Linked DNA regions of Homo sapiens. The protein of the gene in region 4 purifies or fractionates together with the protein of the main gene of each other region. This does not show direct contact. Each region holds a gene or a part of one and is shown on either strand. Other genes may lie near its edges.

Evidence for each region. Proteins that work in one complex are often made in the same cells at the same time.
Region 1: the proteins of CORO1C (region 4) and VSIG10 fractionate together in Homo sapiens (co-fractionation; one large-scale study listed by BioGRID). This does not show direct contact.
Region 2: the proteins of CORO1C (region 4) and PTPRB purify together in Homo sapiens (pull-down; one large-scale study listed by IntAct). This does not show direct contact.
Region 3: the proteins of CORO1C (region 4) and GTPBP1 purify together in Homo sapiens (affinity purification with mass spectrometry; 2 studies listed by BioGRID and IntAct, with this or other methods). This does not show direct contact.

Annotation. Positions count from the first base shown.
Region 1 is NC_000012.12:118,097,426-118,101,011, forward strand, and holds part of VSIG10 (V-set and immunoglobulin domain-containing protein 10 precursor), read right to left. Parts: intron 1-3,586.
Region 2 is NC_000012.12:70,630,844-70,634,429, reverse strand, and holds part of PTPRB (receptor-type tyrosine-protein phosphatase beta), read left to right. Parts: intron 1-3,586. UniProt on the Homo sapiens protein: Plays an important role in blood vessel remodeling and angiogenesis. Not necessary for the initial formation of blood vessels, but is essential for their maintenance and remodeling. Can induce dephosphorylation of TEK/TIE2, CDH5/VE-cadherin and KDR/VEGFR-2.
Region 3 is NC_000022.11:38,722,944-38,726,529, reverse strand, and holds part of GTPBP1 (GTP-binding protein 1), read right to left. Parts: exon of another isoform or gene 3,008-3,586; intron 2,234-3,007; coding exon 2,119-2,233; intron 525-2,118; coding exon 380-524; intron 273-379; coding exon 90-272; intron 1-89. UniProt on the Homo sapiens protein: Promotes degradation of target mRNA species. Plays a role in the regulation of circadian mRNA stability. Binds GTP and has GTPase activity.
Region 4 is NC_000012.12:108,661,950-108,665,535, forward strand, and holds part of CORO1C (coronin-1C), read right to left. Parts: intron 210-3,586; coding exon 80-209; intron 1-79. UniProt on the Homo sapiens protein: Plays a role in directed cell migration by regulating the activation and subcellular location of RAC1. Increases the presence of activated RAC1 at the leading edge of migrating cells.

The DNA of each region.
Region 1 (3,586 bases), 9.4 Mb from region 4:
CCAACATGGTGAAACCCCGTCTCTGCTAAAAATGCAAAAATTAGCCAGGCGTGGTGGCGCACACCTGTAGTCCCAGCTACTCAGGAGGCTGAGGCACGAGAATCACTTGAACCCAGGAGGTAGAGGTTGCAGTGAGCCAAGATTGTGCCACTGCACTGCAGCCTGGGTGACGGGGCAAGACTCTGTCTCAAAAACAAGAAACAAACAAACAAACAAACAAAAGGCCGGGCTCCACGCCTGTAATCCCAGCACTTTGGGAGGCTGAGGCGGTGGATCACCTGAGCTCAGGAGTTCGAGACTAGCCTGGCCAACATGGTGAAACCCCGTCTCTACTAAAAATACAAAAACTTAGCTGGGCATGGTGGCAGGTACCTGTAATCCCAGCTACTCGGGAGGCTGAGGCAGGGGAATCACTTGAACCCGGGAGGCGGAGGTTGCAGTGAGCCGATATTGTACCACTGTACTCCAGCCTGGGTGACAAGAGTGAAACTCTGTCTCAAATAAATAAATAAACAAACTACATGGTACAGACCCAAGTTGTCTCAGTGGCTCCAGCCTGGCCCATTCTAGATCAGCCTTCAGCTAGTCATCGATCCCCAGGCAGATCAGCAGAGCCCCCTAACCAACCACCCCAGCCTGTGGGTAATAAGCACTACTGTCATTTTGGGGTTGTTTCTTATACAGCATTACTGTGGCGATCAATAATTGATACAGAACCCAAGTGGCTTTATTTGCCTAGAAATCCAGAAGGGGTAGAAAGAAGAGGGCTTTGGCTTTGTTTCCACTGTCCCACTGCTCTCTCTGCCTCTCCCTCTCTCTCCGCCTCTCCCTCTCTCTCCGCCTCTCCCTCTCTCTCCGCCTCTCCCTCTCTCTCCGCCTCTCCCTCTCTCTCCGCCTCTCCCTCTCTCTCCGCCTCTCCCTCTCTCTCCGCCTCTCCCTCTCTCTCCGCCTCTCCCTCTCTCTCTGCCTCTCCATCTCTCTCCATCTCAAATGGCCCTAGAGTTCAAGTTCTCTCAGAAGCCCCATGGAAGAATGGGCTGGCAGTAGGGACTGTGTGCCCACTCTGGACAAAGCACTGGGAATCCCACTGTGGACACAACACACAGAAACCTCCAAGAGTTCACAGTCTAGTGAAGAAAAGAGACAATAAACTGGCAAGTACAATGCAGTGTGATAAACACCAAGATAAGGCCTCAGAGAAAGGGCTCCTAAGTCCAACTAGGGCAAATGTCAGGAAACACTTCCCCCAGGAAGCCAAACTGAGATCTGATGGACAAGTAGGAATCAGCCAAGAAAAGGTGAGGATGGGTTCCCAGGCAAACGGAGCATGTTCCAAAGCCCAGATCGGCAGCCGCAGCATGTTAGAAATATAAATTATCAAGCCTCACCCCAAAACACCTAGATCAGAAACTGCGGGAGAGCAGCAGCCCTTTGTGTTTTATTTATTTATTTTTAACAAATCAGCAATTATTTAACTTTTTTTTTAAGAGATGGGGGTTGGGGGGGGTCTCACTCTGATGTCCTGGACAGTCTTGAACTCCTGACTTCAAGTGATCCTCCCACCTCAGCCTCCCAAAGTGCTGGGATTACAGGAATGATTCATTATACCTGGCCCAGCATCTGTGTGTTAGCGAGCCCTCCAGGTGATTCTGACGCCCATTCAAGACTGACAGGTGTCCGGGTGTGAGTGTGCCTGCTCAGGCCTGTAATCCCAGGGCTTTGGGAGGCTGAGGTGGGCGGATCACTTGAATCCAGGAGACTGAAGCTGCAGTGAGCCACAATTGTGACACTGCACTCCAGCCTGGGCAGCAGAGATACCCTGTCTCTCTTTTTGTTTGTTTAAGGTAAAAAACTGTTTTTTTCTTTTTTAGAGATGGTGGAGGGGCGGCGGGTTGGGGTGGGGGGTCTCACTATGTTGCCCAGGCTGGTCTTTGAACTCCTGGACTCAAGCATTCCACTCAGACCCACCTCGGGCTCGCAAAGTGGTGGGATTACAGGCGTGAGCTGCCACGCCCAGCCAACCCTGACTCATAAAAAAAGACCGACAGGTGCTAACGGGCATTAGACTGTCACTAGGTAACAAGAAGCAAATGCAACCCATTTTGCTGAGAAGTTTCACAATTGTCCAGCCCCCTCCACAATCAAGACCCAATACAAAGAGGCTGCAGGAATAGGAAGATGGGCAGAACCTGTTGGGGTGATAAAAATGATGAATTAGTGGTGATGGCTGTATAACCCTGGACTACACTAAAATCCCCTGGGTGGTACACTTAAAAAGGGTGAATTTTGTGGCATGTAAATTATATCTGAATAAAGCTGTTATAGAAAAAATAAACTGCCACTTGCCCCTGGCAATCCTTCCCATTTAAGTGAAAGAGTAATCATTATCTGTATTTGGCCTCTTGTCTGGTTAGAAGGGGCTCCCTTTTAAAGATCTGAAGCCAGCCTGGAGCCCCAGGAAGTTCTGATTCTCTCACCATTTTGGCCACACCATTCCCAAGACTTTTCAGCCAAGTCAGGATGAAAACAAACGAACAAACAAACAAAACACCAAATTTTAAAAACTAAGCCACTTGCTGAAAGGTGGAGAATGCCATCTAATGACAGAGATTCCAAAACAGCAAGAAATGCTTCTGAGCAATCACTTTAAAAAGCAGGTGAGGGCCGGGGGCGGTGGCTCACGCCTGTAATCCCAGCATTTTGGGAGGCCGAGGCAGGTGGATCACTTGAGGTCAGGAGTTGGAGACCAGCCTGGCCAACATGGTGAAACCTCATCTCTACTAAAAATTAGCTGAATGGCCGGGCGTGGTGGCTCCTGCCTGTAACCCCAGCACTTTGGGAGGCCAAGGTGGGCAAGATCAAGAGCTCGGGACCAGCCTGGCTAACACGGTGAAACCCCGTTTCTACTAAAAATACAAAAAGTTAGCCGGGCGTGGTGGCGCACACCTGTAATCCCACCTACTCGGGAGGCTGAGGCAGGAGAATCCCTTGTACCTGGGAGGCGGAGGTTGCAGTGAGCCAAGATCGCACCATTGCATTCCAGCCTGGGTAACAGAGCAAGACTCTGTCTCAAAAAAAAAAGCAGATAAGAATTCTTTTTATTTATTTATTTACTTTTTTTTTGAGATGAAGTCTCGCTCTGTTGCCTAGGCTGGAGTGCAAGGCGTAATTTCGGCTCACTGCAACCTCTGCCTTTGGGTTCAAGCAATTCTCCCGCCTCAGTCTTCTGAGTAGCTGGGATTACAGGCACCCGCCATCATGCCCCGCTAAGTTTTTGTATTTTTGTAGAGACAGGGTTTCACTGTGTTGGCCAGGCTGGTCTTGAACTCCTGACCTCAGGTGATCTGCCCACTTCGGCCTCCAAAAGTGCTGGGATTACAGGCGGGAGCCACCGCACCCAGCCAAGAATTATTTTTAAATTATTAGGATTGGGAACCCAAATTATCCAGTGGCAACCGCCACAATGGAAAGGAAGATGAACTTCAGAGTTACAGATGCAACATGTGTTCATGCAACCTGCAGACCTGCCCCTTGCCTAACTCCTTGGCAAAGAAATAAAGGAACAGTGGCTTGGAAAAAAGCCGTG
Region 2 (3,586 bases), about 38 Mb from region 4:
ATTCTTTCCCACCATTTTTTCCTCTACAACCACCTCCAAGATTCTGTTTCAGGAAATCTGGATTTGTGCATAATACTTGATATTTATTAATCACCAGAAAATTTTGATCCATAATCCAATATGGAGATCAGCATCCACTGTATTGTTAAGTCTTTTCCTTAGGTGTTGATTTGTGAGGCTTATATTAGTCTTTCCACCATGGTAATCTTTGGACAATTTTTTCTCACTCATTCATTCTGTAAGTTAAAACAAGCATTTAACTAGATGCCATTTGAATGTGTTATGCTTTTCTACAATAAGTGGTATGCTTTGCTACAATAAAAGTTGAGAGTTATAGTTTCTGTTCTTATATCATTTCTGCCTATGAGAAAAAAACCTACTCAAAAATTCAACTTTATCAGAAAATATTCAGCATATAGCACCAATTTGTACAATACCTTTCCTGTGGTTCATCTATCAAGGCCTCTCCTAAATAATATAGAAACATTATAACTGTTCCATTTTTACTGTTTTACACAAGAAGTGAGATTCATCCCCAAACCCCAATCAAACCTTATTTAACATAAGATTACTTAGTTGGAACTTTAAAAAAAAGTAGATATGGACTCAGTGGTGAGTTATTCAAGATAAAAGATAATTCATAGAAAAACTACCTCCTATGACCCTCATACAAATATGTCTAGTAATAGACTTCGAAAATAAGGTAACTAGAATAAGCCATTTGCAATTAACCACTGAACAATGCTATATTCAAAAAATGCCTGATAATATGTGTTGGGGAAAGAAATTAATTTCTAGAAAAAGCAGAAGTTAAAATTTGCACAATTGTGGTACAAAAACACCCTTATATTTGAGTACACATAAGTATAACACATACTTTTGCTTTAACACAATTATAAGCTAACAGATATATTTTTCTGCTCCATCTTAAATATGCCATTGTGGGGTTTTTTCTTTTTGTTTTTGTTTTTTCTTTGGTTTTTGTTTTTAGAAACAAAGTCTTGCTCTGTTGCCCAGGCAGGAGAGCCATGGTGTGATCATAGCTCAATGTAGCCTCCAACTCCTGGGCTCAAGTGATCCTCCCACCTCAGCCTCCCAAAGTACTGGGATTACAGGCATGAATCACCATGCCCAGCCCTGATAAAAGTTTAAGAATAATACTTGTAGACCTATATCATGAGAGCTCACTGACTTGCTAGAGTAGCTACTGTGAAAAATTAACCGAAATGCATTCATATGTTTGCAATGAGTGATTTCAAATCATTGTTTAAGTTGGTAACTAAGTATTATAATCTACAGCAGCACAAATACATGTGTTGTTCATCTATGGGATGTGAATTTTTTTGTGTGTTCTTCCATGAAAGAAAGCAGACCTATGAAGGTAAAAATCTAAGCCACATGTTTCATATTTGTTTCATAAAAGACACATTAATGATTGTATTCAAGTTTCCAGGTAATATTTATTTAACACCTACTATGTGCCAGAGCTTGTGCTAGCACTCAGGTACCCTGTGCTAGTACTAAGGTGCCCTCCACAAGTGATTTTTGACCCAAGCTGCATATTAGACTCACATGGCAGCTTTTAACTAATACTAGAGTATAAAACCTGAGCTTTATCCTCTAAGCTGACTAAATGAGGTATTGTATTTTTAAAGTACTTCCTAGGTGATTCTGATGTGCAGCCAAGGTTGCAAATCATTAAATACATCTTATTCCTTAAAGTAATGGGGAAATCAGATAAGTAAATAAATAGGTAATTACAATAGAATGTAGAGAGAAGAAAGTACTTTCCTTTCCAATATATGTCCTTGCCAGTATGTCACATTAAGCACTCATTCCTTTTTTTTTTTTAATTATACTTTAAGTTCTAGGGTGCATGTGCACAATGTGCAGGTTTGTTACATAGGTATACGTGTGCCATGTTGGTTTGCTGCACTCATCAACTCGTCATTTACACTAGGCATTTCTCCCAGTGCTATCCTTCCCCCAGTCCCCCACCCCCCGACAGGACCCAGTGTGTGATGTCTCCTGCCCTGTGTCCAAGTGTTCTCGTTGTTCAATTTCCACCTATGAGTGGTACACGCGGTGTTTGGTTTTCTGTCCTTGTGATAGTTTGCTGAGAATGATGGTTTCCAGCTTCATCCATGTCCCTGCAAATGACATGAACTCATCATTTTTTATGGCTGCAATAGTATTCCATGGTGTATATGTGCCACATTTTCTTAATCTAGTCTACCATTGATGGACATTTGGGTTGGTTCCAAGTCTTTGCTATTGTGAATAGTGCCACAATAAATATACACGTGCATGTGTCTTTATAGTAGCTTGATTTATAATCCTTTGAGTATATACCCAGTAATGCAATCACTGGGTCAAATGGTATTTCTAGTTCTAGATCCTTGAAGAATCACCACACTGTCTTCCACAGTGGTTGAACTAGTTTACACTCCTACCAACAGTGTAAGTGTTCCAATTTCTCCACATCCTCTCCAGCATCTGTTGTTTCCTGACTTTTTAATGATTGCCATTCTAACTGGCAAGAGATGGTATCTCATTGTGGTTTTGATTTGCATTTCTCTGATGACCAGTGATGATAAGCATTTTTTCATGTGTCTGTTGGCTGCATAAATGTCTTCTTTTTAGAAGTGTCTGTTCATATCCTTTGCCCACTTTTTGATGGGGTTGTTTGTTTTTTTCTTGTAAATTTGTTTAAGTTCTTTGTAGATTCTGGATATTAGCCCTTTGTCATATGGGTAGATTGCAAAAATTTTCTCCCATTCTGTAGGTTGCCTGTTCACTCTGATGGTAGTTTCTTCTGCTGTGCAGAAGCTCTTTAGTTTAATTAGATCCCATTTGTCTATTTTGGCTTTTGTTGCCATTGCTTTTGGTGTTTTAGTCATGAGGTGTTTGCCCATGCCTATGTCCTGAATGGTATTGCCTAGGTTTTCTTCTAGGGTTTTTATGGTTTTAGGTCTAACATTTAAGTCTTTAATCCATCTTGAATTGATTTTTGTATAAGGTGTAAGGAAGGGATCCAGTTTCAGCTTTCTACATATGGCTAGCCAGTTTTCCCAGCTCCATTTATTAAATAGGGAATCCTTTCCCCATTGCTTGTTTTTGTCAGGTTTGTCAAAGATCAGATGGTTGTAGATGTGCGGTATTATTTCTGAGGGCTCTGTTCGGTTCCATTGGTCTATATCTCTGTTTTGGTACCAGTACCATGCTGTTTTGGTTACTGTAGCCTTGTAGTATGGTTTGAAGTCAGGTAGTGTGATGCCTCCAGCTTTGTTCTTTTTGCTTAGGATTGTCTTGGCTATGTGGGCTCTTTTTTGGTTCCATATGAACTTTAAAGTAGTTTTTTCCAATTCTGTGAAGAAAGTCATTGGTAGCTTGATGGGAATGGCATTGAATCTATAAATTACCTTGGGCAGTATGGCCATTTTCACGATATTGATTCTTCCTATCCATGAGCATGGAATGTTCTTCCATGTGTTTGTGTCCTCTTTTATTTCGTTGAGCAGTGGTTTGTAGTTCTCCTTGAAGAGGTCCTTCACATCCCTTGTAAGTTGGATTCCTAGGTATTTTA
Region 3 (3,586 bases), on a different chromosome or scaffold from region 4:
ATGAGGACTAGAGTGGGTGAGCAGGGCATCTGGCCAAGAGCCTAGCATGATGGAGTCTGAGGGGAGCGTTCAGTATCATCGCTACTCACCTTCTTCAGCGCAAAGGATGCTGTCTGGCCACCCCGCACCTCCTTGACAGGCATGCGCTTGCGATGGATGGATTTGACAGCAATGGACAGGAAGTTACCCAAGGGGTCTGGGCCCAGCAGCAGCGTGTCATTCAGCTTGATCAGGCCTCTCAGTGTTGTCCCCGAAACCACTGTCCCCACACCCTGCCAAGGAGAAGACCCTGGCCTCATAAGTGCATCCCCAGCACAGACCCACCCCCTGATGCCACTGTAGGAAGTGCCCACCCAGCTACCCGCCCAGAGCCACTTACCGGGACGGAGTAGGTGTCATCAATCTGAAACTCAGCAGGCTCCTCCTCCCTGTAGCTGGTGCGGGGGGAGAGGAGGTTGAGGAACATCTTCAGCAGATCTAGGTTCTCGCCTGTAACGTTGGAGATCTGGAATATCGGGCACATCCTAAGCAGAGGGAGAAGAGGAAGGAAAAAAGGAGAGAGGCACTCAGGAGACCAGGTCCTGCCCTGACACAGACCAGGGGCAGCAACAGGGCTCGAGGAGCAGATGCCACTATTCATGACTCCACCTCTCCCTCACCTGCCTCCAAGGGCTTGACCTCTTTGCCCTGACCTAGCAAGCTCCTGGCCAGCCCTACTCTGAGGCCTTCTTCTCTCACTCAGTTCTGTCTCTGACACCTGTCCTCTCCTCTCTGTCCTCCACCACTGCCCTAGTTTGGAACCTCATGACTGCTTCTTCCTAAAACACACGCATGCTTGCTTAAAATCCTTAACCGCCTTTCCACCACAGAGAAGATACCCCAAATCCCTCTCCCAACACTCACAGCCCTTTGGCTTGGGCTTGTAGCCATCTCTGCAGATTCACTTCTCGCAAATTCCTATATTCCAGCCACACCAGAGAACTCTCCCTTCTCCTAAAACTTTGGAACTTTTCTGCCCTTGTGGATTTGCTCACTCTGACCTTCCTTCCTGAATTCTTTCCCTTTTATGCAACTACCAGGCCCTCTCACCCTTCAGAGCTCATCTCAAATACCACTTCTTCCATGAAATCCTTCCTGGGTGGACACTCTTGACTCCTCTGAGTTCCTGGAGAGCTTTTTCTCTATTACACATGACTGCATCTGATTTTTCATCAGAGTCCTGTAAATGGCCTCTATTGCTCCTATTCAGGGTGACTGAATTAAAATCCTTGAGATCACGAATTACACATTCCCCACAGCTCCTAGAATAGTGCCTGCACAGAATAGGCACTCAAGAATATCAACAAGCTCAAATGGGGCTGTCTGAAATGTGCCCCCTCTGCAGGCTAACTGATGGTACTGAAGATCACATCAGGGCAGAGGCATAGGCAAAAAGCCAGGCTGCTCTGGGCCTGGCGCTATAGACCAAGCTCTGGGCAAACAGGCAGAGTTAGTAGAGTTCACCATTATCGAGAGAGCATCTCTCACCAAGGAGCTGAACACCTTGAGGACAAGGATTGTGTTCAATTCAACTCTGAATCCTCAACATCTAGATGAAGAGTCTCGCAGAACAAACATCCAATAAATATTTATGGAATGAAAGAATACATTAATGAGTAAATGCCAAAACTGATCTGATTAGTGAGCTTTTGAGGAACAACAGTATAAAAAACTGAGTTACAAAAATGGCTGTGTATTTACCATCCATCAGCCAGGCAGGGCATTAAGTGCTCTACATACTTCATTTCCAACATTCACGGGAGCCCTACAGGGAAGGGAATGTTATTCCCATTTCACAGATAAGGACACTGAAGTCTCAGCCGGGATGCCAACCCCAGGAATGCCAGCACCTCACAATCTGGGTTACGTGATATTACCCCTGGGCAACAATGCTGGCTTGGGAGACCCTGCGCTAAGATTGGAAGCTTCTATTTCCTCCGATCTCTGAATAGGGAGAGGTGTTGATGTGGTGTTTTCATGAGACCTTATGCCCAAACTGACAGCCATTCCAGGCCCATCACTCACTGTGGTCCTGCCTGCAAGGGTGCCTGTCTGAAGTGTGCGCTCCCCACGCGTTACCTTTCAGAGCTGAAGTTGGAGGCTGTGACAATCACATCATCTTTGCTCTGCACCAGCACGGGGATCTTCCGGCAGCCTGGTGACTTCAGCAGGCGCTGTAACAGCTTCAGGGTTTCTTAAAGGGTGCAATGGAACAGAATTAGGGGGACACAGCCTTCTCTTTGGCCAGGCTTTAAGAGCAAGATGGGTCCACTCATTACTGATGCAAGCAGGAGACAGACAGATAGATGGACCAGTGTTAAATGCCACAATGCCTGGAGAAGCAAAAAGGAGGATCAAAACTTTGGGTGCTGCTAGAGTAAGAAAAGCACAGATGGGGCCTCTTTTCTAGGGTTCTGCGTCTGAAACCTGGCAGATTTCTCTTGTGTCTAGACGACCTGCCTCCTGTAAGCATGTGACTTGAGGGTCCCCAAGAAAAACAATTCACTTCACACTTCAGTTCTCAGAATGCACTACTTCCTGGAAAAAAATCTCATCCAACAAAAAGGATCTCTTAGACATTTAGAAGTCTACAGAGACCCTTATTATGAGGCTTCCCAAAGGGATACTTTTCTACAATCTTTAGCAGTGAGGGAGAAAGGCATGAAGGCTTAGTCCTGCAACCCTGTGTCAAAGCTTTGGTGGCAAAAGGTAATCAGACCCTCTGTCCAAACTTCCCCGTATATATCCAGCTTAGCTGGTAGAGCCCAACTCCTTCTGCCTGGGGTCACCTGAAAAGAGGTGCCAGATTCAGGATCTCAAGATTTCTGCATTTGGAACCAGAAGGAACAAGGAAGAGGATAATTCTAGGCTGTGTTCAGACCAAGAACTAAATAGGGGAGGAAGTAGCAGAAGATTCTGGGCTGATGGAAATTCAGGCCAAGACCTAAGTACAAGACAAAGGAAGTTTCGCCCGCGTGCACTGAAGATGGTAGCTGCTGTGGGAAGGCTACTCTGAGCATCGGCTGCCCGACATGTGAGTGCCATTCCTTGGGGCATTTCTGCCACTGCAGCCCTCAAGCTTGCTGCTTCTGGAAGAACGAGCTTGACAAACATATTATGGTCTGGTTCCAGTCAAGCAAAATTCTTTAGCACCAGCTCCTCATACCATGCACCTGCTGTCGCCCAGCATGCACCCTATTTTAAGGGTACAGCCATTGTCAATGGAGAGTTCAAAGACCTAAGCCTTGATGACTTTAAGGGGAAATAATTTGGTGCTTTTCTTCTATCCTTTGGATTTCACCTTCGTGGTCCTACAGAAACTGTTGCTTTTAGTGACAAAGCTAAGGAATTTCATGATGTGAACTGTGAAGTTGTGGTCTCAGTGGATTCCCACTTTAGTCATCTTGCCTGGATAAATACACCAAGAAATAATGGTGGTTTGGACCACATGAACATCCCACTCTTGTCAGATTTGAGCAAACTTCCTGAGACTACGGTGTGCTGTTAGAAGGTTCTGGTCTTGCACTAAGAGGTCTCTTCATAACTG
Region 4 (3,586 bases):
CAAAACACATTTGCTTCCCCCCACTCAGAGAGCCACAAGAGTGGAAGACAAGGGGAGGACCGCTGAGCTCAGCTCCCACCTGCACTAAGAAGCACATTGCGGGCCGTTGGATGCCAAGCCACGATGCCGACTCTCTTTGAGTGGCCTTCCAAAATCACCACAGGTTCAGTCAGGGAAAGGGTGAGTCCATTTTCTGGGATCTGCCATACCTGTTGGACAAGGAAGAAAGATGATCCACATGAAAGCTATTGCCTTTCATTATCACATTTACAGTGACCATCCACTATAAAGATTTGCTCTATGTAAACAGAACATAGAGTGATATCTGGATGAAAGGCAGAATGTTGTGAAATGACCGTGTTAGGCGGTTTTTTTTTTGTTTGTTTTTTTGTTTTTTGTTTTTCGTTTTTGAGACGGAGTCTCACACTGTTACCCAAACTGGAGTGCAGTGGCGCGATCTCGGCTCACTGCAACCTCCATCTCCCAGGTTGAAGCAATTCTCCTGCCTCAGACTCCCAAGTATCGGCTGTTTTTAAAATGTAATATGTTATCGGAGATCAGGATACCAACAAGGACTACAAAACATTTCCTCTCAGCTTTTATTTAATATTATTTGGGATTTTATTCTAAATTCCTTGTTAAGTTCAAAACTCTCCAGTTAGAAGCATGCAAAAAATTGAAAGAAAACTACAAAATGATTGAAACACTCAAGAAAAGGAATGGGAATGAAGACACTTAGCTAAGTCTGTGGTTCTTGATGGGATGACATAGTTTTTAAAACATATTTTCTATAATTTTACACTTGGAAAACAAAAATACACTTAATATTTTTATAACATGTATTATAGAAAATATTACAAAAGAAAAAAATGAATTAGACCTCATCAAAATTAAAAGCTTTTGTGCTTCAAAGGACACTATGAAGAAAGTGAAAAAACAACCTGCAGAATGGGAGAAAATAACTTACAAATCATACATTTGATAAGAGACCCATAGCCTGAATATAGAAAGAACTCTTAGAATTCAACCAAAGGACAAATAACCCAATTGAAAAATAGGCCAGTCATCTAAATAGACATTTCAAGGAAGACATATAAATGGCGAAAAAGCACATGAAAAGATGTTTGGCATTATTAGTAATTACAGAAATGCAAATCAAAACCACAAGCTCTCTCTTCATGCCCATTAGGATGGCTAGAATCAAAAAGACAGATAACAAGTGTTCACAAGCATGTGAAAAAATCAGAGCCTGCACACATGGCTGGTGAAAATGTAAAATGGTATAGCCACCATTTGGTGGCAGACCTTGGAAAACAGCCTGGCAGTTCCTTAAATGATTAAACAGAGTTATCATATGATCCGGTAATTCCACTCCTAGGGATATACCCAAGAGGATGGAAACTATGTGTCTATGCAAAAACTTGTACAAGAATGTTCATAGAAGCATTATTTGTAATAGCCCAAAGGTGGAAACAACCCAAATATCCATCTATCGATAAATGGCTGAACAAAATGCGACATATTCATACACTGGAATATTATTTGGCCATAAAAAAGAATGAAGTACTGATACATGCTACAACATGAGCAAACTCTAAAAACATTATGCAAAGTGAAAGAAGCCAGACATAGAAGACCGCATATTGCAGGATTCCATGTATGTGAAATGTCCAGAATAGGCAAATCCGTAAAGACAGAAAGTAGAATAGTGGTTGCTTAGTGTTGGGGAGAGTGGAGGGAGGCAGGTGGAGGGGTGATAGCTAAAGGATTTGGGTTTCTATATGAGGTGATGAAAATTTTCTATAATTGTCTGTGGTGATGGTTGTGAATATTCTAAAACTCAGTGAATTGTACATTTTAAATGAGTGAATTCTATGTGAATTATATCTCAATAAAACTTGTTATTTAAGAAAATCCTCTTGACTAGTGAAGACATGCAGAAGACTCACCACATCTTAATTGGGGACATGCCTGGGCACAGGGGGAGAAAGGGACAGGGAAAGTATGAGTGGAAGGAATGAAAGACTTTATGTTTAACAATGAACAACAAAGGTTTCAAAAGGTTAAGAAACAAACAACCTCTAAGAAAAGGGCTGAGTTACAGGTAAGCTGAGTAGCATCAAGAACCCTACCGAAGACCAGATATTAAATAATATTTAAGTTTATGAAAAAGCTAAAGTTTAAAATCATTATCTTCTACATGAAGATTAAAACAAGTAAATTTACCATCAGAAAATGATTTTGAGGAACTAGCTCATGAAAAATTTAAGAACTTGTCAATGAAAAATCATGTTCAACACTAGAACACGTGAGAAAAAGAATTTTCCTTTGTGGGAACTTTAAAGAAGGAGACAAACAATTGTCTGTTTTCAATTGCTTAGTGGAAGGCAGAGATCTAGACTGGATGAGTGTTTAGGGTTCAGCTCAGTTCTACTGTCCTGCAAAAAATGAGAACAAAAAGTTTGCCATTCTGAAGAGTGGGAAAAAGTCATGAGTTGAGTGATTTGTTCATTTTTACAGCTAAATTCTGCCCAGGCTAAATATAACCCCTTATGCAAATCATAACAAAAATAAACCTGCATTTTGAGGGCCCAAGCTTAGAACATCACCTAATTTCCCCAGAGCCAAATTTTAAGCAAGGCAGGTGTGAACAAGCATAGAAGGAAAAGGAAGACCTACCCTGCCCTCTCCCTCCCTCTGCGGAAGAGACCTTGACCCAGGCCTCTTTCCCCTGCGGAGAACATGGGCATCTGCTCTCCTCCATTACTGCATGTTAGCTTTCATCCTGACATGCACTATTTTTATTCAAGAATTTATGATTAGTGAAACAACTCCACATTGAACTTGACTATCTGAATATAAAGCAGGACTGACATTTTGAACAGAACAAACAGAAAACAGTGACTACTAATTTGATCAAAGCATGAAGTCGACAGAAAAACAATTATGAAATGGGACTTCAGTGACTCAACAGGAAAAGCATTTTGCAAGATGCACTGTGACCCCACTTAGAACTGACAGAGTGGTAATACCACCTTCAATCTCCAGATGGCACCCCAACCATGGCCTGCTGGGTTTCCTTGCAAGGACTGAAAACGCCTCTGTGTCTCACTCTGAGCACAGCTAGTGCATTTTCCAAATCACTAATGAGACGTGGAGTGATGGGAGACTTTGTTTATAATCAGCATTTCCAACCTTAAAATATGAGGGCAGAAGCAGAGCTCATAATGGGGACTTAACCTTTTCCTTTCTCTAGCTTCTCCCCATCATCTTTTCCTGGATTAAAAGAAAATTTTAATGATGAAGCAACATTTATTAATTTTTAAAATAAGGAAACTCTGTGTGTTCCTTCTTTACCTCACCTCCAGCTGGTTTAACGGTTCCCTCAGCTGGGTTTATTCACATAAGACAAGCACCTAAGCCATTTTACTACCTTGGTTAACTCTTTCTTGTAACACATTTATTGAGTTACAATAAATTGTATTGTAACCCATCTAGTACTGGGTAACTAAATACAGGCCCTGCTCTTGAGAAGTTGATGGTCTAACAGAAAGCAGAGACTTCTATCAGACTGAAAATCAAAGAC